Homo sapiens: one gene and its partners. The protein of the gene in region 6 purifies or fractionates together with the protein of the main gene of each other region. This does not show direct contact. Each region holds a gene or a part of one and is shown on either strand. Other genes may lie near its edges.

Region 1 (3,500 bases), on a different chromosome or scaffold from region 6:
CATTCTTGCAGATGCTTACTACTTCAGTGAAGCTTCGAATGACTCAGAGAGGTCATCACGCCCAGTCATCTTCAAATTTTTCTGCACATTAGACTGCACTGGGGAGCCTTAAAACAATCCCAGTGCCAGTCCACACCCCTTCCACACCAATTACAACGGACTCTCCAGGACCCGGGCAGCCATAGTGTTTACCACTTACCTCGTGATTCTTATGTACAACCACACTTGAGAACTGGGGATCTAGTCCTGGGCTTCTCATACTTGCCATGTGAAAGCATCACCTGGGGATCCTGCTGCAATGCACATTCTGATTCAGTAGGTCTGGGGTGCCGCCCAAGATTTTGTATTTCTAACAAGCTCCCAGGGGATGCCGGTCCACGGACCACTCTCTGAGGGGTAAGGCTCCTAATTCAACTGACTAACTCAACTCAGGTTAACTACCTGGATGCTTTTTCAGAGGGTGGTAGGAAGCCTGGGATTACCCAACCACTGATCAAGGGGTAAAGAGCAATCTGCTCTGTATGAGAGAAACTCAGGTTCCGAGGAGCATTCTTGCCTTTTGGGCTGCAGTCATCACTTGCTGTTCATAGATGTCAAGGTTCTGGTTCATGAGCTCCAAGGCCTCTTGGCGGCTGATGAGAGCCAGAGGGTTCAGACTCAGGATGGATGGATGCTCATACACGGCAGCCACATAATATTCAGCCTCGTGATGGTCAGCCACGCTCTCCTCCCCGGTGTGGGCTCCCAGGGCAACCACGTAACAGCCGCAGAGGAAAAGAGCAAGCTTACTTCTGGCTCCAGACATAATGCAGACCACAAATCTGGAATGTAATGGGGCAAGGGGAAAACAGCTGAATAAAGAATCCTGCCAAGAATTTAACGTTTGCAGCTGTGATTTATTAATCCCAGCAATTAAACTCACTCGCAGTGATACTGCGGCTCAAAGAGTTTGTTTCATGTTCCTAATAAAAGAGTATGTGTTTCTCTCCAAACACGTAGCAAGCCACATTTAAAATGGCTCACTGTGTTAATAGTCTGGTTTTAGAACATTTCCAAAACAGACTCAACGTTTGCTATGATTTTCTTACCCAGTGTTCAGCAAGACTGTAGTGCGTCACTACCCACTTTTCTAGCTGTGCACTTAGATTTTAAGCAGTAGTAACTATCCAGATTATTTGACATAATTCTGTGATATATTTCACACTCTACCCTCTGCCCTCTATCCATACTACAGGTCAGCCATCCGTAATGTCTGTGATTGTCATGACCCTAATAACACAGCTTGGCTTTCCTGGCCATCAAAACCTAATGAATTACAATTCTCCCTGCATTTCTTTGGTTAGTAATAAATACTATGGATAACTCTCCCTTTATTCAGCACAAAATTATTTATTTGGTGCCAAGAAACTGCTGACTTCTACATAAATGCCAATAGCTACTTTCTTTTATAGACAAGCAAAGTATCCCAATAAAAGCATGTTATTTTTTCTCCTTGAACTTGAGAATCGCCATTGCACATTATCACTTTCTTAACCCCATCTCTGTGACTCCAAAACTCTTGCTCAAAAGCCTACTCATTTGGAAATAAAATCCTTTTTGCAGTGATAAAATGCAATTTTCTAGAAAATAAACTACAAATTTCCAGAGAGTAAACTCAGCTTCATAGCTTCTACCAGAAAAGACTAGAAATAAATGATACTTCTGTGTGTCTCCTCCTTCCTCCCAGAATAGGAATGTTTCTTTCTAAACAGTGTGCATTACTGTTTTAGAGTAAATAGTCCAATTCTGCCTTTAAAAATCAGCCTGGCCTCCCAGCTAAAGCGTCCTCTCAGGCAGAGATTTACTGGGTAGTGTGCCAAGGCCAGGCCACCTGCCCATGGAGATGTCCTGGGGCTGAACAACTGCCCAGGAATCCGGATTAAAAGTCAAGATAACAAAGACAAATCAAAGAATCATATTGCTGCCCTTTAAAAAGAAAATGACACCCTGTCCAAGTCTCAACTCATAACTCCTGTGTTTGCATTTTAAAACCAAACTCCCCAGGCTACAAATTTCTTTATTTTTTATCAAAAGTTCCAGAAACAAACCATAGCTCTTTTCGTCAACAGACTAAGAACTAGAAATGCTCATCTTGGCAAAATTAAATATTCCTCAGAATGAGAAGTATTCTCCCACCCCAACCCGGTTCCATCTCAAACTGTTATTTCTTTCCCCAGGGAAATGTACCATCCAAACACCAAACCCCAGGATTTGTTGCCATTCATCTGGGACACTGTAAACAATGTTTTAAGATAAGAACAAGGAGTCTTTGAGTGAGCAGTCATGAGTTTTTGAGTAGAAACAAAAGTATAATTGATAAGCTTTCTTATCTGAATTTTGCCTCTAAAGACAAGCAAGGAATAATTTAAAATGTCTCAGAAACCCATTTTTCCATTCCATCTCTGGTTTCACAATGATAACAGAGAGTGATTTTGGGGGCAAACTTTCATCTTCAAAGTCATACTGACAATATTTCTGAAGTATAACGCAAAGGCCTCACTAAGAGGTATGGAAACTGAGGCCAGGAGAGGAGGGTATGAACCAGTCCCCAGTGGGGGCAAGTGAGGAGTGCCTGGGGCCAAGAGTGGCATTCACATTACATCTCTTTCTCAACTGAGAGCTGGGTACCACCGATGTCGGGGTACAGAACATTTGTTTATGTCTAAAGGACTTGCAATCCAGCAAAACAAGGAAACCGCAAAATCCGCAAGGTATCACATTTCTTTCTATCTGGAGAAGATAAAATTTATTTTACAAAAGGAGCCCGGTAGGAGAGCTCTAAGTGGCAATCATTTGTGTGTGAACAAAGGTAGGTCGATAATAAGAGGTTATGCAGATTCAACCAGGTATTCATGCTTGAAAGAACCAAGCTTAATGAGGTAGAAGAGAATGAGTAATTACAATAAAAATAGGTCTAGTCAGCCGGCCCTCAGTATCCATTGTTTCTGCATCCATGGATTCCACCAACCTTGGATTGAAATTACTGGGGTGGGAGGGGGAGGAGGGAGCCCAATAAAAATAATAGCACAACAATAAAAAATAATAGCAATTTAAAAAATACAGTATAACAATTATTTATATAGCATTTAGTTTGTATTAGGTAGTGTAAGGGATCTAGAGATGATTTAAAGTGTACAGGAGGAAGTGTTTAGGTTACATGTAAATTCTACACCATTTGATATAAGGGACTTGAGCATCTGAGGGTTTCGGTATCCACGGGGTCCTGGAACCAGTCCCAACAGATACTGAGGGACAACTGTACATCAATTTGCCCTTCCCAAAGAAACATTTTACCCAAATTAGCAAATGCTGCTTTTCTCTCTTTGGCATCACACATACCTTCTCAGGAAAAAGTAAATAGGGCCTGTGGCAAGGACTCTGAAGGGTTCAGCAGGCAGCAGCGGGAGGTGCTCAGTTGTAAAGTGGCAGGACTAGAGGTAGGGCTGGAGGGGCCCAGGCAT
Region 2 (3,500 bases), on a different chromosome or scaffold from region 6:
AAGCTTGCCTGAGATCACAAAACTGATGAGAGTGGGATGCAAACCTAAAGCAGACCCCCGCTTCTCACCAAATATTTGGTCTTCAGTCCATCCATCCAAACAATGGGAGGGAAAGAGAAACTGAAGTCTGGAGGTGGGAGCATGGGATCCCACCAGTGTCCTGATACCCAGAGGACAGAGAGGTTGGGGGAGCCAGAAGCTCTGAGCCTTGGAGCAGTACTCACCCTGTGAAATATTAACCTAGGAGCTGGGGGGAAAACCCAAACAAATGCCCTATTTACAGAGGCTAGACGCTTTCCAGGAGGCAGCAGATCAAGGGCCAGAGACTGGGGGTGTGAGGGGAGTCACAGCAAGTGTGGGGATCTCCAGGTGGTCGGGAAACAGGTGAAAACCAGACGCCACCTGGCTCTGAAAAGTCTGCAGAGATTAAATCTATGAGTTGGGTTATGTCAGAAAGATGCAGACACACAATAATTGGGGAGTGTGCCTCACAGCTAGGTGGCTGCTCATGATGCTGGAGACAGAGAGGCCTTGAGGAGGCTGCATTCGGCTAGTAATCAGACTGGTTGGGTTCTATTCTTGTAACCAAATGTATTAATGATCCTACCCATACTGAATACCAAGTATATACCAAGAATTCTGGCTGGGCGTGGAGGCTCACGCCTCTAATCCCAGCACTTTGGGAGGCCAAGGCGGGCGGATCACGAGGTGAAGAGATTGAGACCATCCTGGCCAACATGGTGAAACCCTGTCTCTACTAAAAATACAAAAATTAGCAGGGCGTGGTGGCGGGCGCCTATAGTCCCAGCTACTCAGGAGGCTGAGACAGGAGAATTGCTTGAACCCGGGAGGTGGAGGTTCCAGTGAGCCAAGATTGCACCACTGTACTCCAGCCTGGCAACAGAGCAAGATTCCATCTCAAAAAAAAAAAAAAAAAAAGAACTCTGTTAAGTATTTTATATGTGTTAATTAATTGAATTCTCTCAACACCCAACAAGGCAGGAGTTACCATCTACAACTTACAGAAAAGGCAGCTGGAAGGAAGGGGCTATGGCTATGCAATTTGCCAGAGACTATGGATCTGAACAGACAGATATGTACACAGGTAGTTCATTAGTTCAAGACGCAGTGTGTCAGGCTGGGCACAGTGGCCTACGCCTGTAATCCCAGCACTTTGGGAGGCCAAGGCAGGTGGATCACCTGAGGTCAGGAGTTCGAGCCCAGCCTGGCCAACATGGTGAAACTCCATCTCTATTAAAAATACAAAAATTAGCCAGGCATGGTGGCGGATGCCTGTAATCCCAGCTACTTAGGAGGCTGAAGCAGGAGAATCGCTTGAACCTAGGAGGCAGAGGTTGCAGTGAGCCGAGATTGCACCACTGCACTCCTGCCTGGGTGACAGAGCAAGATTCCGTCTCAAAAAAAAAAAAAAAAAAAAAAAGACCCAGTGTGTCCAGCTTTCCAAGCAGTTCGCATCAAAGTCACAGATAACTTATTTATTTATTTATTTATTTTTCTTTCTTTTTTTTTTTGAGATGGAATTTTGCTCTTGTTGCCCAAGCTGGAGTGCAATGGCACAATCTCGGCTCACTGCAGCCTCTGCCTCCTGGGTTCAGGCAATTCTCCTGCCTCAGCCAACCAAGTAGCTGGGATTACAGGTGCCCGCCACCATGCCAGGCTAATTTTTGTATTTTTAGTAGAGACAGGGTTTTGCCATGTTGGCCAGGCTGGTCTCGAACTCCTGACCTCAGGTGATCCACCTGCCTCGGCCTCCCAAAGTGCTGGGATTACAGGTGTGAGCCACTGCGGTCGGCCTATTTATTTATTTTTCTTTTAAGAGACAGGGTCTCACTCTGTCACCCAGGCTGGAGTGCAGTGGTACGATCTCAGCTCGCTGCAACCTCCACCTCTCACGTTCAAGCAATCTCCCACCTCAGCCTCTGGAGTAGCTGTGACTACAGACGTATACCAACAGACCTGGCTAATTTTTTTATTTTTTGTAGCGATGAGGGCTCACCATGTTGCCCAGGCTTGTCTCAAACTCCTGGGCTCAAGCAATACGCCCACCTCAGCCTCCCAAAGTGCTGGATTACAGGTGTGAGCCACCGCACCCAGCTGCCACAGATAACATTTTATCAATATGATAATACATTATCATTTTGTTTCCCAGATAAGGAAACAATGGTTGAAAGATGAGCAATGAGTTGTTCCTCCGGTAAGTGTGTGACCCTAAAGTTCGAGCCCCTTGCCATTATGCTATGGGGAGGGACCATTTCTCCAACCTCAGCTTTCCCTTCTGTTCCACGAGCCTCCGCCGCTTCCTTACAACTCAGGCACTGAGCTCACATGATCCAGTACTGCTGGTAACCACTCCGTGGCATGTCATTTTTTGGCCACAGCATTGAAAGCTTCCTGAGGGCAGGGACCCTATGTGATTTCTGGGGTCTCCATTACAGAGTATGTGAGTGGCTCAATGCCAGTGACAGGGCCTCGGCTCCACAAGATCCCCAGCCAATGTTTTCCAGCCTCAATATTTATCAAGGTCCTTACCTGTCAGCATGTTGCGAGTGGCACACGCTGTGTTGCGCGTGTTGTGAACAGGGTTGCTGAGGAGATGCCATGAAAGGATGGCAGGAAGGTGGTAACCAATAATTATGAAGAGTGATGTTCCTGAGAATAATGCTTCAAGAGACCCTTCTGCATCTCTGAAGCTGGAAAATCAGTTTCAGCGATTGCGCCAGATATAAGACAGTGGTCCACAAATAGATAACCAGACAGGGGTCTCTGCACTCACCTCTCAGGACTCCAGAACAGATGAGGTACTGAAGCCAAGCAAAAAAACCAGAGTGCCAAGAGCAGTCTTCCAGCTAGTGGGCCCCCAAAACGTGTCTGCATAATCCTAGTGGTACTAATGATAATACCTTTGTAGAGAGCTTCAGAACACACCTAATTCTTTCACAAGCTGTGTCTCATTTCATCCTCCCAACAGCCTTTAGAGTTAGTCGGAGGCAAGGGAAGGCCATTATTCTTAATCTACAAATAGGAAAACTGAGGCCCAGAGAGGAGATGGAACCTGCCTAACTCACACAGCAAGCCAACAGCAGAGCCGGGATTTGAACCAGGTCCGCAGGTCACCAGCCTGGGGTTCTACCCACAACAGCCTACCCCAACATGCTGGCTCTCAGCTCCTAAGTGCTCTGACCTTTCATTTTCAAATTCTCTGGCCCAGTTGCCCTGCTCAGCCTGTGTCCCAGGCCTGAGGATATAGTCCGGGCTTGGGGTATAAGGAGGGAGATCAACTGTGGTTCTGCTTCCTATAAAGCAGGCTGGAAAGTCTCAGCCTCTGCCGGGCACTTCCGGATCACCAGCCTCTACCCGTAGATCAGCCACGCACACTCCAACCACATATCTAGGCCCAGCATACACTGCCCCTCCCCACCTGTCTCCAAGTCACATTCATTTCAACACCCTCATTTTGCCTATTTTACGTGGTAGAATGG
Region 3 (3,500 bases), on a different chromosome or scaffold from region 6:
GCCATACAGTAAGGCCAAGAGGAAATAGACTGCTTGGGTTTGAGCTTGTTTTGTCACTTGCTAGCCATGTGACTTATTATCAATGCCTGCCTCTCTAAAAAGATGAGAATAAGAGCACCTACTTCATAATGTGGTTGTGAGGATTAACATAAATTAAAACACAAAGCATTTTGAATAACGCCTGACAAAAAAAATTGCCTCAGTAAATATTAGCTATTTATCTGTATGTTGTCTCATATTTTTTATCATTATTTCCCTCTGCATTTTGGAAGATTTCCTTGCCATTATCTTCTGGTGCCTTCCTATTTTTCTCTACAGCAATCACATTTAAATTTCTAAGAATGCTTGCTTCTTTCTTGATCGTTCCTTTTTTCTCCACAGCACCATGTGCTGGTTTTATGAACGCAAAAACTTTCTGAAGTCTCCAAGATGACATTAACCAAAGTTTTAAAAGTTCTCGTCTGTTTCCTTGAGGATCCGCTGTTGTGTTTCTCTTGGTCTCTGTCATTCACGTTCTGCTTTTCCTTATATGTCAGATGATTAAACTCCGTCTCCAACTTCACTATTCTAAGCAGCTGGTCTGTTTTCAAGATAATACTATCTCCAAAACAGAAATGTTGGCTGGGAGCTCTGTGTATGTGGGAGGCTTGCTGACTGGCACCTGGCATTAGAGTGGGAAGCCAGCCCTAGGGCAGGGACCCCTCAAAGCCATTGGAAGAGAGCTTAACCCTGGGGTCCCAAAGCCATACCCAGCAGTCCCAGTTCTTCTCAGGCAGTTTGTTCAATTTATCTCAAAAAGCCTGTCCATTGTCATGGACAGCTGGCTAAGGGGATGGTCTATACACAGGCTTTAAATTAATTTCCATGTTTTAGCACTACCTTCTCATTTCCACCCTCCTTACTTCCAACTGCTAGCCAAGAACTTTGTTGGGGTTCTGCCAGGAAAGGCGCTCCAGCTCCGCTGCGGCTTTGAAAGCTCTGGATTCTGGGCTCCAGATTCATCTACTCTAGTTCATCCATCAATCAGCTTCCAACTTCTCTGTCCCTTTCTACTCTGTTGGCCCTTCCAACCTCTCTTTTTCTCTTCATTGTAATGGACTTACTATTTTTTAAAAATTTCTTAATAGTCATTTTAATTGAGAGAGAGAGAATGCTAACAGCATGCTCAATTCCCTTCTTAAACTAGAAAACTATGAAATTTTTGTTTTAGGCCAGGCACGGTGGCTCATGCCTGTCATCCCAGCTATCTGGGAGGTTGAGGCAGGAGACTCACTTGAATCTGGGAGGTGGAGGCTGCAGGGAGCGGAGATCGCAACACTGCACTCTAGCCCGGCCAACAAAGTGAGACTTAAAAAAATTTTTTTTTAATTAAAAAAAAAAAGAAATTTTTGTTTGAAGGACAAGGTAGCAGTCTAGAAGTCTTTACATGCCTGCCTTGATGTATTTTTGTCAGGTAAAAATTACTAGAGTTGTAAAACAGAGCAGCAATGTGAGGCCTTTATCACCATTTGCCCTTGATTAGATTCACACTTAACAGGACAAGTGCCGCAAACCTATACATGGTTCTATGAGAATCTATAAATGCGGGCTTTGACTTAGGAAGATGTGGAAAAGGTTTGTAGAGAAATTTCTGCTTGAGATTAGATCTAAAGATTAAAAGGACGGTGGGAAGTACACTCCAGGAACAAGAGAGAATCAAGTTTGTAGATTATTTTGTGTGAGATCTCCCATTCAAATTGCTTTTATCAAATTATACTTCAGTAATATACTTTTGCTTTCTATCAAGGAACATTTTTTAAAACAAGTATGTATCTGAAGACACAGACTGAAGACACTTCATTACAGCAATGTCTTCTGTATGAGGGGATCTCATCAGGATTTTTTTAAAAACTCATCTAATTATCAGATTTGTGCATCTCCTAAGCAGTTGCCTTGTTTTTAATCTATAAATAATTACGTCCACCCAGGTTTCTCTTTTTGCACTAGCTGCTCAGATAATTAAAACAAAGTTGGCCGGGCATGGTGGCTCACGCCTGTAATCCCAGCACTTTGGGAGGCAAAGGCAGGTGGATCACCTGAGGTCAGGAGTTCAAGATCAGCCTGCCCAACCTGGTGAAACCCCGACTCTACTAAAAACACAAAAATTAGCCGGCATGGTGGCGGGCGCCTGTAATCCCAGCTACTCAGGAGGCTGAGGCAGGAGAATCACTTGAACCCGGGCAGCAGGGGTTGCAGTTAGCTGAGATCACGCCATTGTACTCCAGCCTGGGCGACAGAGCAAGACTCCGTCTCAAAAACAACAACAACAACAACAACAAAAGTTTATAGCTTATACATTTTGTTTGTTTTTGAGACAGGGTCTCATTGTCACTCCGGGTGGAGAGTGGTGGCACGATCATAGCTCACTGTATCCTGAAATTCCTGGGCTCAGGTGAATCTCCTGCTTCAGCCTCCAGAGTAACTAACACTACAGGCACATGCCACTAGGCTCAGCTCATTTTTTTTTATGCTTTATGTTTTTGTAGAGACAGGTCTTGCTATATTTCCCAGGCTAGTTTCAAACTCCTGGCCTCAAGCAATCCTCCCGCCTCAGCCTCCCCAAGTGCTGGGATTATAGGCCTGAGCCACTGTACCCAGCTTGACAGCATACATTTTTCTATTAGCTTCACCCTTGACTCTAGTTTATTTCTTACCCTTGTGTTTCTTATAAGACATTTTAAGTTCTTTTGGGTGCACTGCAAATTAAAAATAAATACTGGACAATAAACAGTAAGAAAAGGATCTCTGTGTATCTTATATTTTTAATTTATTTCTTAAACAGTACCAGGCACATTATGGGCATGTGTTTAAGTCTCAATAAATACACGTTAATTGACTAGACAATTCAGCACAGGTTTCTATGTAACGTCAAAAGGGAAAATATTTTCATTTCTAATAAAAAAAGTTACTTAAAAATCCAAGAATCCTCTTGATTCATATGTATACATTTCCTTTACATTCTATTTAATTATTAGAGTTTTTATAATATTTAAAAAAAAACTAAGCCAAGGTTTTTAAAATGTAAAGATTAAACATGACATTACCACAATTCTTCGTATTTTAAAGTGATCATTTAAGCTCTCATATACAACCTCTAAGGACGAGAGCACAGAAAAATTATTACATGTCCTCAAATTAGTCCTATTTTCCCCCCAAATTAATAATTTTCAAAAAAAAAAAAAAACAACTTAGGTTATATTTAATCTAACTAAAAATTTAAAGCCGGGCACGGTAGCTCACACCTGTAATCCCAGCACTTTGGGAGGCCGAGGCAGGCGGATCACCTGGGGTCAGGAGTTTGAGACCAGCCTGGCCAATATGGTAAAACCCCATCTCTACTAAAAATACAAAAATTAGCCAGGCGTGGTGGCACACACCTGTAATCCCAGCTATTCGGGAGGCTAAGCCAGGAGAATTGCTTGAACCCAGCAAGCGGAGATTGGGTAAGCCAAGATCGCGCC
Region 4 (3,500 bases), on a different chromosome or scaffold from region 6:
GCTGGCCTTTTTTGGTGGAGAGGAATGGGACACTGGTGAGGGCCCTGAACTGGGAATCGGAAACCCTGAATCCTTCTTAGTTTCTGCCTCTCCCTTGTCTCATCAGAATAATGGGAGAATCATTTTCTCCTCAGATTCTGCCCTTCAGAGAAGTAACTCCACACCTTCTCAGCCCTCCGTTCCATTCTGCTTTCCTAACTCGCTTCCCTGTCCTCTGCCTGAGGAGGGGTCAGATAGGGAGGCTTTGGGAATCCACATCTCAATGCTGTCCCCAGAGTCAGGAATGCAGCTTGCTGAGGGATGTCGGGGGTTACAGCCTCGACTGGAGGGTGAGGGCCCCCAGCAGCACCCCTTGGTGGCCGGTGTCTGTTCCAGGTGGACAGGTTCCTGTATCACATGCGGCTCTCCGATGACACCCTTTTGGACATCATGAGGCGGTTCCGGGCTGAGATGGAGAAGGGCCTGGCAAAGGACACCAACCCCACGGCTGCAGTGAAGATGTTGCCCACCTTCGTCAGGGCCATTCCCGATGGTTCCGGTGAGTGCAGTTGTCCGCTGCCAGGGTCCCTGGCTCCTCTTGGCTGATGGGTGTCTAAAGTACCTAAGGTTTGCCCCTGTACCTTGGCTTCTCTCTCTAGCCCTCTCTCTGCTGTCCCACCCTCCCTGCCCCTCTCTGCTTCAGTCCTGCTGAATCCCTCTTGCAGTTCTGCAGTTCTGCAGCCCCAGGCACCGTGGCTTCTCTGCCCATCGTGGCCTCACACATTTGCTCCCTCTCCTCCTGGAGCATCTCCATGTTCTTCCCTGGTGAGTATCAACGTGGCTTTTCCGTCTCAGCGTAGTGGTCCCTGCCTCCATCTAGGAAGTATCCCTGTGCTGGGCTGGGTGCTTGTCAGGGCACTTGTCACTTTGCTGTGTCCCCACTCTGAGTCTCCACCAAATTAACCACTCACTCCGTGGGTCCAAGGTCTTACCACAGTGTTCCCAGCACCTAGTGTAGCACTGGGAATGAGTAATGGGAGCAAGAATGATGTAGTGGAAATCACATTCAATGATAATTCAACAAACCTGGGTCTGAGGCCCAGCTCTGTCACTCTCAGTGACCTGAGGCAAGTGTTTAGCCTCAGTTTGCCCAGCTGTAGAATGAGAAATGGCCTATGTATCTGTTTCCTATGGCTGCTGTGATGTATTACTACAATCACAGTGGCTGAAAACAATCGAATATATTCTCTGACAGTTCTGGTGGACGGAAGTTTGCAGTGGGTCTCACTGGGCCAAAATTCAGGTGTCGGCAGGGCTGCGTTCCTTCTGGAAGCTTGAGGGGAGAATCTGTTTCCTTAACTTTTCCAGTTTCGAGAGGCCACCTGCATCCTTGAGGCATGCCCCTTTCTGTTCTCAAAGCCAGCAGTGTAGCCTCTTCAGGTCCCTCTCTGACCTGACCTTCTGCCTCCTTTCAACATTTAAAGATCCTGTGATCACGTTAGTCATGCTTAGATAATCCAGGATAATCTCCCAACTTCAAGGTCAGCTGATGAGCAATTTTGATCCCATCTGCAACCTTAATTCCCCTTTGCCTTGCACCCTCAGATATTCACAGGATCTGGGGATTAGGATGTGAGCATCTTTGTTGGGGGTGGGGGACATTATTTTGCCTACAATGGCCTAGAAATCTGTAGATAGGATCTATGAGGTCCCATCCAACTCTTCCATTCTCAGCCTCTGAATGAAGCTGTAAGAGGGAAAAGGGCTGCTACTGGCCTGGAGTGGTGGCTCACGCCTGTAATCCCAGAACTTTGGGAGGCCGAGGGGGGCAGATCACTTGAGGTCAGATGCTCGAGACCAGCCTGGCCAACATGGTGAAACTCCACCTCTACTAAAAATACAACAATTAGCCAGGTGTGATGGCATGCACCTGTAATCCCAGCTACTCGGGAGGCTGAGGCAGGAGAATCACTTGAACCTGCAAGGCAGAGGTTGCAGTGAGCCGAGATTGCGCCACTGCACTCCAGCCTGGGTGACAGAGCGAGACGCCATCAAAAAAGAAAGAAAGAAAGGAAGAAGAAAGAAAGAAAGAAAGAGAGAGAAAGAAGAAAGAAAGGAAAGAAAGAAGAAAGAGAAAGAAAGAAAGAGAAAGAAGAAAGAAAGAAAGCAAAGAAAAAGAAAGAAAGAAAGAGAGAAAGCTGCCATTTACTGAGCAACCACTGTGGTCATGGGGTGCTGGGGACTCGCTGAGCCACATATTTCCTGTGACAACCCTGTGGTGTGGCTGTTCAGACAGAACCACCAAGGACCAAGGGGTTTCTCCCATGTCAGGGTCCCAGTGCCCAAACCGAGCTCGTGAAAGAGCACTGGGGCTCTCGCAGGAGCAGGGTCTGAGGTTTGGGAGCTCTCAGGGGGCTTTGATGGGATCAGTCGTGTTCTGGACCTCTCTGGAGCAATGCCTGGATCAAGGTAGCTTGGCTCTGCTGGTTGAGAGGCCCTGGGACACTGCACTGGGAAAGGCCCTGTGCCCTCACTTGTGGGTAGGTGCTTGGGATGGACAGTGCCCTGTCCTGGAAGGACGTTGAGCTTCGGAGAGAGACAGCCCTACTTTGAAATCTTGGCTCTGTCCTTGCCACAGCTTGACGAGAGTACTGGGACGTGTCCTTGACAGGGCATCTGGGGCCCCTGGGAGGAAGCAGCTGAGTCATGTGGGGAGCACCAGGGCTAAGTCCGCCTGGCTTCCTGGACTGCAGCCCCTCCTCCTGATACAGACAAGGTGTGTCCCCAGAAGCAAGGGAAGGTGGCCTTTGATGGTCTGGAGGCTCTGGGACAGGCGGTGTCCTCCTGGCCCTGGCTGCTTCTGAAGGTTCAGAAGTGAAACTAACTAAGTCATAGAAACTCTCTCCTCCTTAGCCGGGAAGACGCCCAGCTCCCCATCCCCGTCTCCGCAGAGCCTCTCACCACACAAAGCATCTCACCAGTGATTCTGTTGTGCCGAGGTCCCTGGGCCCAGAGTCCCTAATAAGCCAGGTGTTCTTGGTAAATCCCGGCACCATACATGATTGTCAGGATTTAATGAGATCATGTGGATGGCGTGCTTTAACATCTCTAAAATCTTGTCCCAAGTCCTCCTAGCTCTTGTGAGCTGGTGGTATAATTTCATGATTACCGACAAAAAACAAGCAAAACTCTCCTAATTCCTTATGGTGTCCGTTTCAGAAATGTATGCAGCTTCCAGAGAAGTCCTGAGTTTGCCTACTCCCATCAGGACCTATCTGCGAGGGAGTCACCTGTTTGAGCCTTAGTTACCACCCAGCCTTTTGGTCAGGGGGCTGCAGTGGTCTGTTCTGACAGGATCAAGTGCCTTAAAAGTGCTGTGTTAATACTGGAGCCTTCTCTGCCAGTCATGGAAGGGGCATGGGAAGCATGAGGGTGACTGTGATTCTTTGGCTTGACCCCTGCTGGCTCTGTTCCAGGCCTTAGCCTCCAGTCAGCCTCCAAGGCCAAATAGGCCTTGGGGG
Region 5 (2,623 bases), on a different chromosome or scaffold from region 6:
GTCGAGGTACAGTAAGTATGAATTTCAATAGCCAGTTTGGAGATATAATGGGTTACCTTGGAGAACTATTCATTGGTTCAATATTCAAGAAGAGGTCATATAGTAAGGCATAGTGAAAAGAGCTTGGGTATTAGGGTGATCTGTTCGATTAATAAATATTTATAGCTCCTATGTCAAGTATGGTTACTATTTGATGTGGATCTAATGGTAAACAAACACAGGAAGCTTGAATTGATTATTTCCCCTGAGGTTTGTGAAGATTACATAAAACAGCTTATTTTAAAGTACCTACCAGTGTCTGGGCCAGAAAGGCTACTTCCAGGAGGCGGGCCAGATCATGAGGCTGCGATGTGGTAGAAGGGGCTTTCGCGTAAAACTGACAACTAGTCTAGAGTTACCCTTCAATCCACAAACAAGTATTAATACTCCTTACTTACCATGTACCAGGCACTGTGTTAAGTGCCAGAGGGTTGCAATCAAAAGAAAGAGACATCCATGTATTAGTTCTAAGTGGAATATTTATCAAACAATAGAAATACAAGATGTTGCTACATAAGATGGAGCAATACCTTCATATTTGTTGGGCCCAGAATTGTTTTATGAAGTTGAAATTTAAGTTTGATATTGATGCATTATACTATTTTGGTAGTCCGATAAGCTAATAAAAGAGCCTACTACTTGGTAACAATTTCAGCCATTATTGAATTTAACACTTTGCTATTTGCTAGCCAATAAAATAGACTCATTCTCTGCTATATCTCATTTAATTGGAAGAATTCTAATAACTCCGTGGGTTGATCACGTTATACATGTAAAATACAGAGAGAAGAAAACATGCATGCAAGGTTAAGACTTTAGAGTGGATGGTCTAGAAGCAAAGTCTGAGGGGGGATTCCTGTTTTCTTGGGAAACACATTTACTGAGAATAGGGTAGCAGAAGAAATGAGTAAGGTAATGTGGGAAAAGGATGAAGTTTCGGAAGAAATAAGTAAAAGTACAGTTTCAGGAGAAGTCTAGCCTCAGCCTGATCTCACGAGGAGCTCTGAGCATGAGTTGCACCAGAGGTTGTCCTGCCTGGAGGCAATGAGGGTGGACTGTTACCCTACTACCCCCATGCCCCATCCCACATGGGTCAGTCAATCATTAGTCATGCCCTAACCCTAGGAAAGCAGGGGAGTGGGGTGGACAACATTTCTCAGGCATCTTCAGGTAAGAAAACTCCTGCCAACTAAGAGAAATCCTTCAGAAAATAGTACAGAAGACAATCTTTGTGGCAGCTGGGGTTGAGAGCACTTCCCTGGTAAATGAGCTCTGGATGGAGCATTAACAGCAATAGCTACAGTCACATAGCTGGGAAGCAGAGGAGGAAAAAAGGCAGCGCATTTCTGCCGACTGGTTCAAAACCAGTTTTGGTCTGTCTCCTAAAGTCCCAAATGTTTTTAACCACTAAGTAACATATGCACTGGGTTTATAGTTTTTACCTACTTTATCTCATTGAGTTGGAGTTTTCCCCCAACAGAGTACAGTACATATCTGCCCATTTTTATGGAGAAGGAAATGGAGGTTCTCAGAGTCTGAATCTAAGATCCCATGGTCAGTGATTGGTACAGCTAGGATGCACACCCAGGTCTTCTGGCTCTCTCTCTTTGCTGTTATCTAACTGAGAAATTTGGGCAAAATAGAGTAAAGGTCTTGACATCAGGGATAACTAAAGCACCAAGGTCATTTTCTACATCAAAACACTTTAGTGAAGCAGCTAAATCCGATGATGTCCTCTTTAGCTTTGGCCTTCTCTCACTGTGTGCTGTTTGGAGAACTCTGTTATGTTGCTCTGGCCTTTAACTCAGGCTCAGTCTTCCGAAATGAGCTGCTGCCGGTTAGGAGCATGTTTTATCACGTCCCTGTTGCATCAAATCCCAGCCACTGCTTTGCTTGAAGGTAATCTTGATATCACCCTAACTGTCCAACTCCAAATCCTAGATGCCCATAATTTCCCTTACAGGCTCTGCCTAATAGACAGATGCATATGCTTTATATCTTCCTCCACTTACCCACAAATAGATGGACTGAAAAGGAGCAGAGACATCGGAGACAAAATTTCATTTGTAAGAAGTAATGGCTCTATCAACATGGGCAAGCCCTTTAATTTCTGAGTTTATTTTTCTGTAAAATTAGTAGCCCATTTTCTACTTCCTAGGGTTGTTATATAGGTTAGAAGCAATATATTTAAAATACCAAGCACATGGCAGGTGTGCAACAAATGATAGCTATTTTTATGCAACAGATACACCTGCACAGGAGCCAAATTCACATGGGTGCCTGCTAAGTAAGCTTCCAACACTCCAGCCTTGGAAAGCAGTAGCTTCTCATTGAGTTTAACACATTTGACATGCCACTCAGACAAATCTCTTGCCTACCTCTACCCTCTACCCCCAGCCTCTCCCCGTGACCACTGTCTTCATGTCTCAAGCTTCCCTTGTTCAGAATGCCCTGCTCTGGTGACACTACTGCCATTCGTGCGTGCCCCAGCTTTATGGCAATTCCTCCATGAAGCCTTCCCACAGGAAGGTCAGGGTCTCTGTGGCCCACAAGTTAAGTGACCTGCCCTGACATGCGACCTCTG
Region 6 (4,223 bases):
CAACACCCCAAAGCAGGCAGAGTTGACCTCCCAGTAACCATTACCAAGCTAAAGTCTTCCTAGCAAAACAAATTCATCACCCCTATCCACACCACTCCATCTGCACACACATAGGCATCTATATTAACTCACAGCAACCCTCACCCAAACGAATATATGCATGAACCCACATACTCCTTCACACATCCACACACATGCACACACACACTCCTGTGCATCTTCCTCATGTATGCACACATATGCATCTTTCTACATGCATAGCCACATGTGTACACCATCCCACACATTCATTCATGCATACACAAAACTCCATATGCACAAACACATTCATTGACTTCACAATACACATCTGCACATGTGTGCCAAACACACATGCATCCTCCCATGCACATGAATACATCCTTGCATACGTGGCCCCACAAATATCTGCACACATGCACACATGCCCTCCAAAGCATGTGCAGGAGTACAGATGCGTGCACACACACATACACACACACACATGCACACACTGCTCTGCGGTACTTGATGCCCCTGACCCACATCAGGCACATACCTCTTTCAGTTTTGGCTGGTCATTGAAGGGACAGTTGTCCAAGTTGGGCTGGGACTTGGTGCATGTGGTTCGACCGAACTTCACATTGAAGTAGTAGTTCACCCCACCCACGATCTACACGCGTGGAAGAGCAGGAAGCAGGGGCAGCATGCTGTCAGTTTCATGCACACGCAGGCACTTCACTGTGACTGAGTCACTGGGCTTGCCTGGGGCTTCATGCCCACACTGTCACCCAAAAGGCACACAAGCCACCTTCTCCTGCTGGCTGGCAGTGGTAGTGTGTCCCAGTCCTTCCTAGTAACTTGTTTTCTCTGGGTATCTCAAGCAAGCTGTCTCATGCAGCCCAGTAGAAAGAGAAGCAGGGGCAGGGCAGATGGAAGCCAGGGCCTAAAACCCCCTTCACTGGATTCAGGAACAGAAGGCACAGCTCTGGGGAACCAGCCAGGGTGGGACAAAGAAACAGTCCTGGCACCAGGCTTGCAGGGCAGGGTCTAAGCACCAAGTGAATGCTCTTTCCCACAGCAAAGGATTAACTGAATTCTGCTACCTGTGCTCAGGGGGCAGGGACACTGGTCCCATCCTAGGAAGGCTGCCACCTGATGATGAAATTTCAGCTAACTTCCAGCTCCTGGCATTCAGTCCACAGAGCATCTCATTCCTGCCATTTAACCCAGAGGTATTTTTCCTCATTTCTCAGTAGGAGATGAGATGCTCACATACATTGATGTTTTAGGCCAATAAACATTGCCTCCTGCATGCCTCCATTCCAGGTGTGATTTTCAAGGCAATATTTCTAAAGTGAGTCACACACCTGCATGTCTTAGGGTTGCAACTTCAGAAGAGAACTGAATGCTTTCCCTGCACAGTGCCGCCCCAAAACATGACTTGTCAGAACTGTGGAGAAGCATGGGATGAGGGACCCTGGGACCAGGGTGCTAGACCTTGCCCTGTGGAACCACACACAAGTCCTGTAGAACCACATGGAAGTCCTGTGATCCCTCCGGTGTCAGTCTGCTGCTCTGTAAAATAGGCTCCAGGGCCCAACGATCTACATCATTCTGTGCTTCACTCCCAGTGAGTGACACACTTAAGAGGGAGTGCAGGCCAGCAGGGACCACAGCACCAGGGAATGCCCCTCCTGTGCAGGGAGAGGGCTGCAGGAGGAGAAACAGGGCTGGTCTGGACTCCTCTGACTTTCCAAGAGAAGGTGGAGGAGCTCTAAAGGCTGGCAGGCCATATAGCCCTGTGGTCGCTGTGTCACTGCTGCTCTGCCATGGGACGTAGGTCAAGCTGGGCTCGGTAGCCCTGCTGAAGCTTCCTCCCTCTGGACCCAACCACCTCCTTCACTCTGCTGGGTGATTGCTGTCCTCATTTTGCTGAGGTCTAACTCTGCGTTAGCTGGCAGAGGCAGGGTCAGGCATGCTCTACCCCAGCAGGAACTCAGCTGTCCTGGGCTGTAGGGGGTGGTCAGCCAGCCTGAGAGTGAAGGCCACTAGCCATAACGGGCTGTGCCCAGGGGCGTGACTTGGGAGGGAAGCGGGGCTATCCAGGACAAGGAGTCAGGTTCCCGTGTGGCCCCTGTGGAGAGGACTCAGGGAGGAAGATGAACCTCGTGGCCTGGATCTCATCCTGAGCAGCATCAAGCCCACCCAGAGTCAGCACAGTCTCCATCCACACCTGCTGGACCCTGGGAAATGCCACAGTCATGGTACAGACACAGTGGCTGCTGCAGGTTAAAAGAGGCCGAGGGGACAGGACAGGGCTGAACTCATGCACTCACGGCCAAGGAGTGTCCTAGGGCATGAAGACCATCAGCAGACAGTCAGAGAAAGCTGAATGAGTCTGCGGTTTAGATAATGTTGATTTGCTGGGAGTGCTCTGGGGGGTGAGGCAAAAAACCCAGCTGGGACTCAGGACCCCCAGGGTGGTGGTAGCACGCACCTGCTGGTAGGCAGCCATCACCTGCAGAGGGCGGCTGTAGTACTCATCCTTATTAATGACCTTGTTGTACTCGCTGATGGCAAAGTCCAGGGCACACTGCACACTCTTGTCATTGAGGTCTGTGGCATGGATGCCACCTGCCAAGGTCCTAGATTGGGCCGAGGCACTCCCGGCCACGGCCACCATCAAGGCAGTCAGCAGCAGCAGTGGGGTGTGCATGGGCCACATCATGTTCTACTGGGACACAGAGCAAGGAGCTGGATCTCCCAGAGAGCAAAGCAGCAGAAGGCTGAGGCAGGAAGCCCAGGCCAGAAGCTAGCTGTGCATTTATCCTACTTGGGTGTCCCCCAACCCCACCTGCTCCCTGGCCCCGCCCCTGGCTCCTCCTCCTCTTTCTACCCCTCCTCTTCTGTCTCTATCTCCCTTTCCACCCCCAACCACCTCCCTCCCTCCCTAAGTTCCCTTCGCTCCTCCCATGCCTCCTCCTCATCCTCCTCCCCACTCCTGTCCTGACCGCAACCTCCCCACAGCCCTGCCCCTCTTCCTCAGTGCTCTAAAGCTTGGCTCACTCTGGATTCCAGAGAGGTGACACCGCTCCCTGGGCTGTGAAACCTGGTGACCACCTATGTCCACAGGAAAGGGAGAAATACAGGGCTTGGCCTTCTAAAGTCTTCAGATGTCAGGGGCATCCAGGAGCACGTGGTCATGGTCTGGGAATTCCTGGGGCAGGGAGCTGTTTCAGAAGCTCCGGGATGACCTTGTCCATGCCCTCTTCTGGGGAACTTCTTTGCCAAACATAAAGTAATTAACCTTTGGGTAAAGTTCACTGGGTTCTCGTTTCATAACTCCTCATTATTCAATAAACAAACCTGTCACCAGCTTCCCCCTGCACCAAGCAGTCTGGGCAATAGAGCCGTAGACATGAACTTGCAGAGCTGCCATCCAACAGAGATGTGACAGAAACCCAGGAGCAATTTAAAACACATTTGAAAAAGTTAAAAGATACAGCTGAAAGTAATTTTGGTATTTCTACTTTAACCTAATATATCCAAAATACTTCAACACTTCAGGACTATTCTTAAGGAGCTAGTTTACATTCTTTTGTGTGAGTGTAATGTCTTGAAGTTCCCTGTGTATTTTTTACAGTTAGACCAAGCGTCACTGTGGACTAGCCCCATTTCAAGTGCCCTGTGGCCACGAGTGGCTGCTGGTGGCTGTGGTACTGCATAGCCCAGCCATTAGGGTGTGTGGGAGGATGCAGAGTGGTGATCAACAATTTAGATCAGGGAATTATAGTCGCTCAGTTAGAGAGAGGGTGGGTGCTACTGGACCCTGGTCAGGGAAGTCTCTAAGAGACCGGAAAGGTTGAGAAGCCCCAGGCAGCAGGGAATAGTCAGTGCAAAGGCCCTGAGGCAAGGCTGGGCATGCCTGCTCCAGGAAGAGGAAGCTCCTGGAGGGGGTGTGAGCAGGGAAGGGAACGACCTGGAGTCTCACGGTAACTGTGGGTGTGTCCAGGTGGAAGGCGCAGGGAGACCCCTGGCAGGTGGTGGGGGTGTCAGGAGAAGGAGCAGCAGCCACAGGATGAATGTGGGAGCCCAAGAGCCTCTCTTGCTCCTCCCCTCTGGGAGACGTGCTGCCAGCACTGGTCCTCTGTACACTGCTTGGAAAACTCATGTAATATTTTAAAAATTACATTGAATGAGGTAGAATTTACACACAATAAAAT
Region 7 (3,500 bases), on a different chromosome or scaffold from region 6:
CAGAGAGGGAAGAGGAGGAAGACGGGGCATTGCTTCCCAGCTCCCTTGCCACCCCAGTGCCTCTGCCATAGAGTGTCTGCTGCTGCTGCTGGCCTCTGCGTCCCCCACTTCCTTGTTGGGTCCCCTCACCCTACTCTCTAGAAGTCATTCCTCCATTAAAGTCTCTTTATTGGAATCATCTGGGCTGAATTCTGCTTCCTGCCAAGACCCTGGCTGCATGGGGGAGAGGAGGTAAGGGGGTCACCAGGGCCAGCGTCTGGATGCCTTGGGTGTCAGGCCCAGAAGCATATCCTGTTTTGTTTTTTTTTAAAGATAGAATCTCACTCTGTTGTCCAAGCTGGAGTGCCGTGGCAAGATCTGAGCTCACTGCAACCTCCGTCTCCTGGGTTCAAGTGATTCTCATGCCTCAGCCTCCCGAGTAGCTGGGATTACAGGCATGCGCCAACATGCCCCATTAATTTTTGTATTTTTTGTAGAGACGGGGTTTCACCATGTTAGCCAGGCTGGTCTCGAACTCCTCGCCTCGAGTGATCCGCCCACCTCGGCCTCCCAAAGTGCTGGGATTACAGGCATGAGCCACCACACCTGGCCAGAAGTCTATCCTTTGTCCTGGAGGCCAGTGATGGCTTTAAGCAGAGAAGTCACAGGATCAGACTCACATCTTAAGACACTTCCCTGCAGGGGCTGAGTGGAAGGTAGACCTGGGGGCAGCAAGACCAGAATGACAGCAGGCAGCTGCAAACATAACTATGATTATCATGTAGCAACGTGGAAGAATGCTTAGGGTGTAAGTTAAAATAGACAAAGCAGAACATACAATTGCCTCTGCTATGATTGCAACCATGTGGTCTTGTGAATGCCTGTGTACAGGACCCAGAAGATGAGGAAACACTTAAAGAGGAAGGGAGGGAGGACAGAAGGGAGAAAGGAAGGAAGGAAAGAAGGAAGGGAGGGAGGGAGGGAGGGAGGGAGGAAGGGGAGGAAGGAAGGAAAGGAAGGAAGGAAGGAAAGGGAAGGAGGGAGGAAAGGAGGCAGGCAGACACACACAGCATTGGCTTGTTAGAGTGATGGGATTGTGGAGGAAACATTCTTGTTTCCAGAACAGTTAGGAGCTCTTGCTGGAGAGAATGGATGTAAAGAAAGTTGAGAGGCCAAATCCACCATTCCCTTAGACACCACAGAAATCCCAAGGCCCAGACCTGCCATCTGTGCTGTGCACTGCAGCCAGGACACTACCAACTCTGAAACCCCACTTCTTGTCCAAGAGGAATTCATTCCCCTGTTGATTCCTGTAAGCCCCCTTGGTGATGGAGAACTGGGAGGCCTAAGCACAATGGGGCAACCTGGTACAGAGTTTGGGAACTGGAAGATCAGAGTTCAAATCCCACCTCTACTATTTATTCACTGCGAGATTCTGGGCAAGTTTCCTCGGTTGCGAAATGGAGATCATAAAACTCACCCTGGTATATTTCTCGCCAATGCATTCTAGTTTTCTCCTAAAGTAACAGAGGTCTAGATGGGTGCACGACCGTTCAGCTGAAGACTGCATTTCCAGCCTCCCTCGCAGCTAGGAGAGCTATGTGACTCAGTTCTCATCAATGGCAGCAAGCAGAAATAACATGCCACATCCAGGTCTGGCAGTTAAAACAATTACAGATGCCTTTCCCTGGTATTCCTTCCCCCAACCTTCTGGAAACCACAGTATCCAGCTTAGAGTCAGAGATGGAAACCACAGATTGAATGGCAGAGCTGCCCATCAGCCCTGGACCTCCTCCACTTGCACTGTCCTATGAGAGAGAAACAGAGTCCTATCATATTTAAGCCACCACTTTTTTGCATCTTTTTTTTTTTGAGACTAAGTCTCACTCTGTCGCCCAGGCTGGAGTGCAATGGTGCAATCTCGGCTCACTGCAACTTCTGCTCCCAGATTCAAGCAATTCTTCCTGCCTCAGCCTCCTGAGTAGCTGAGATTACAGGCACCTGCCACCACACCAGGCTAATTTTTGTAATTTTTTAGTAGAGACGGGGTTTCGCCATGTTGGCCAAGCTAGTCTTGAACTCCTGACCTCAGGTGATCTGCCCACCTCGGCCTCCCAAAGTGCTGGGATTACAGGCGTGAGCCACTGCACCCGGCCTGCATCTCTTTGTCAACACAGCTTAGCCTCACTTGTCCTAACAAATACACACACCACAGCATTACTATGATCAGTATAAAAGTATTAACAGCTGAGCACTTACTCTCTCATTTATTTTATTTTTGTTTTTGTTTTGAGGCCAAGTCTCACTCTGTCGCCCAGGCTGGAGTGCAGTGGTAAGATCTCGGCTCATAGCAACCTCTGCCTCCTGGGTTCAAATGAATCTCCTGCCTCAGCCTCCCAAGTAGCTGGGATTACAGGTGTGTGCCACCACACCCAGCTAATTCTTTGTATTTCTAGTAGAGATGGGGTTTCACCATGTTGCCCAGGCTGGTCTCAAACTCCTGGGCTTAATTGTTCTGCCCGCCTCCGCCTCCCAAAGTGCTGGTATTACAGGCATGAGCCACCACACCTGGTATCTCTCATGTAATCCTTACCACTACCCTGACATGTGAGCCTAGTAGTGTTCCCATTTTGCAGATGGAAAAACCAAGGCACAGAGAGACTAAGTCATATGCCCAAGGTCATCCAGCTAGGAAGTGGCAGAGCTAGGATTCGAACCCACTCCAGCCCCAAAGCCTGGAACCATGCCAAATTCAGGGAGGTGATTGTGTGGCACACACAGCCCAGTGGCCCAGAGCAAACCCTTGTAAGAGTTCGTTTCCTCTGCCTTCCTTCAGGCTCCACACCTGGAACCAGGAGGGAAGTGGGGCCAAGATTTGATGTTGAGCTTGATGTCCTGGGCTCCCCGCTGTCCCTGGGCACCTAGAGTCTCCTTGAGCAGAGGGGCTCCCAGCTGCTGCTTATAATGTTTCCAGCCTCTTACAGCGGCTCATCTAGCACAAATGCTCCCTAGTGAGAAAGGGCTTCCTAAGGGTAAACAAATGCAGGCGTTTCTGCCACTAAGTGACATCAGTAACACCTCTTTGTTGGATGCTAACTCAGCAGTAATGTAACCTCACATTGAGGGGGATGCCAAGAAAATCAAAAGGAATTAGCTGGGCACAGTGGCTTACACCTGTTATCCCAGCACTTTGGAGGCCAAGGAGGGTAGATCACCTGAGGTCAGGAGTTTGAGACCAGCTTGGCCAACATGGTAAAACCCCGTCTCTACTAAAAATATAAAAAATAGATGGGTGTGGTGGTGGGTGCCTGTAATCCCAGCTACTCCAGAGGCTGAGGCAGGAGAATTGCTTGAACCTGGGAGGCAGAGGTTGCAGTGAGCCGAGATCACACCTTTGCACTCCAGCCTGGGCGACAGAGTGAAACTGCATCTCAAAAAAAAAAGAAAAGAAAAACAAAAGGAATTATAAGAAAAGATCAGCCCTGTGCCCAAGAACAAAAGGCCAGGAGGAAGCTGGCCAT

Evidence for each region.
Region 1: the proteins of CST5 (region 6) and BTD purify together in Homo sapiens (affinity purification with mass spectrometry; one large-scale study listed by BioGRID and IntAct). This does not show direct contact.
Region 2: the proteins of CST5 (region 6) and ZER1 purify together in Homo sapiens (affinity purification with mass spectrometry; one large-scale study listed by BioGRID and IntAct). This does not show direct contact.
Region 3: the proteins of CST5 (region 6) and BTBD1 purify together in Homo sapiens (affinity purification with mass spectrometry; one large-scale study listed by BioGRID and IntAct). This does not show direct contact.
Region 4: the proteins of CST5 (region 6) and HKDC1 purify together in Homo sapiens (affinity purification with mass spectrometry; one large-scale study listed by BioGRID and IntAct). This does not show direct contact.
Region 5: the proteins of CST5 (region 6) and HS3ST1 purify together in Homo sapiens (affinity purification with mass spectrometry; one large-scale study listed by BioGRID and IntAct). This does not show direct contact.
Region 7: the proteins of CST5 (region 6) and HAPLN3 purify together in Homo sapiens (co-immunoprecipitation; one large-scale study listed by IntAct). This does not show direct contact.

The regions. Positions count from the first base shown.
Region 1 is NC_000003.12:15,632,745-15,636,244, reverse strand, and holds part of BTD (biotinidase isoform 1 precursor), read right to left. Parts: exon of another isoform or gene 3,379-3,500; intron 822-3,378; 5' UTR 806-821; coding exon 557-805; intron 1-556. UniProt on the Homo sapiens protein: Catalytic release of biotin from biocytin, the product of biotin-dependent carboxylases degradation.
Region 2 is NC_000009.12:128,765,428-128,768,927, forward strand, and holds part of ZER1 (protein zer-1 homolog), read right to left. Parts: intron 1-3,500. UniProt on the Homo sapiens protein: Serves as substrate adapter subunit in the E3 ubiquitin ligase complex ZYG11B-CUL2-Elongin BC. Acts to target substrates bearing N-terminal degrons for proteasomal degradation with the first four residues of substrates being the key recognition elements.
Region 3 is NC_000015.10:83,057,253-83,060,752, forward strand, and holds part of BTBD1 (BTB/POZ domain-containing protein 1), read right to left. Parts: intron 1-3,500.
Region 4 is NC_000010.11:69,226,832-69,230,331, forward strand, and holds part of HKDC1 (hexokinase HKDC1), read left to right. Parts: intron 1-375; coding exon 376-538; intron 539-3,500. UniProt on the Homo sapiens protein: Catalyzes the phosphorylation of hexose to hexose 6-phosphate, although at very low level compared to other hexokinases. Has low glucose phosphorylating activity compared to other hexokinases. Involved in glucose homeostasis and hepatic lipid accumulation.
Region 5 is NC_000004.12:11,392,650-11,395,272, forward strand, and holds the end of HS3ST1 (heparan sulfate glucosamine 3-O-sulfotransferase 1 precursor), read right to left. Parts: 3' UTR 501-2,623; downstream 1-500. UniProt on the Homo sapiens protein: Sulfotransferase that utilizes 3'-phospho-5'-adenylyl sulfate (PAPS) to catalyze the transfer of a sulfo group to position 3 of glucosamine residues in heparan. Catalyzes the rate limiting step in the biosynthesis of heparan sulfate (HSact).
Region 6 is NC_000020.11:23,876,949-23,881,171, forward strand, and holds the start of CST5 (cystatin-D precursor), read right to left. Parts: upstream 2,801-4,223; 5' UTR 2,729-2,800; coding exon 2,498-2,728; intron 671-2,497; coding exon 557-670; intron 1-556.
Region 7 is NC_000015.10:88,889,045-88,892,544, forward strand, and holds part of HAPLN3 (hyaluronan and proteoglycan link protein 3 isoform 2 precursor), read right to left. Parts: intron 337-3,500; exon of another isoform or gene 1-336. UniProt on the Homo sapiens protein: May function in hyaluronic acid binding.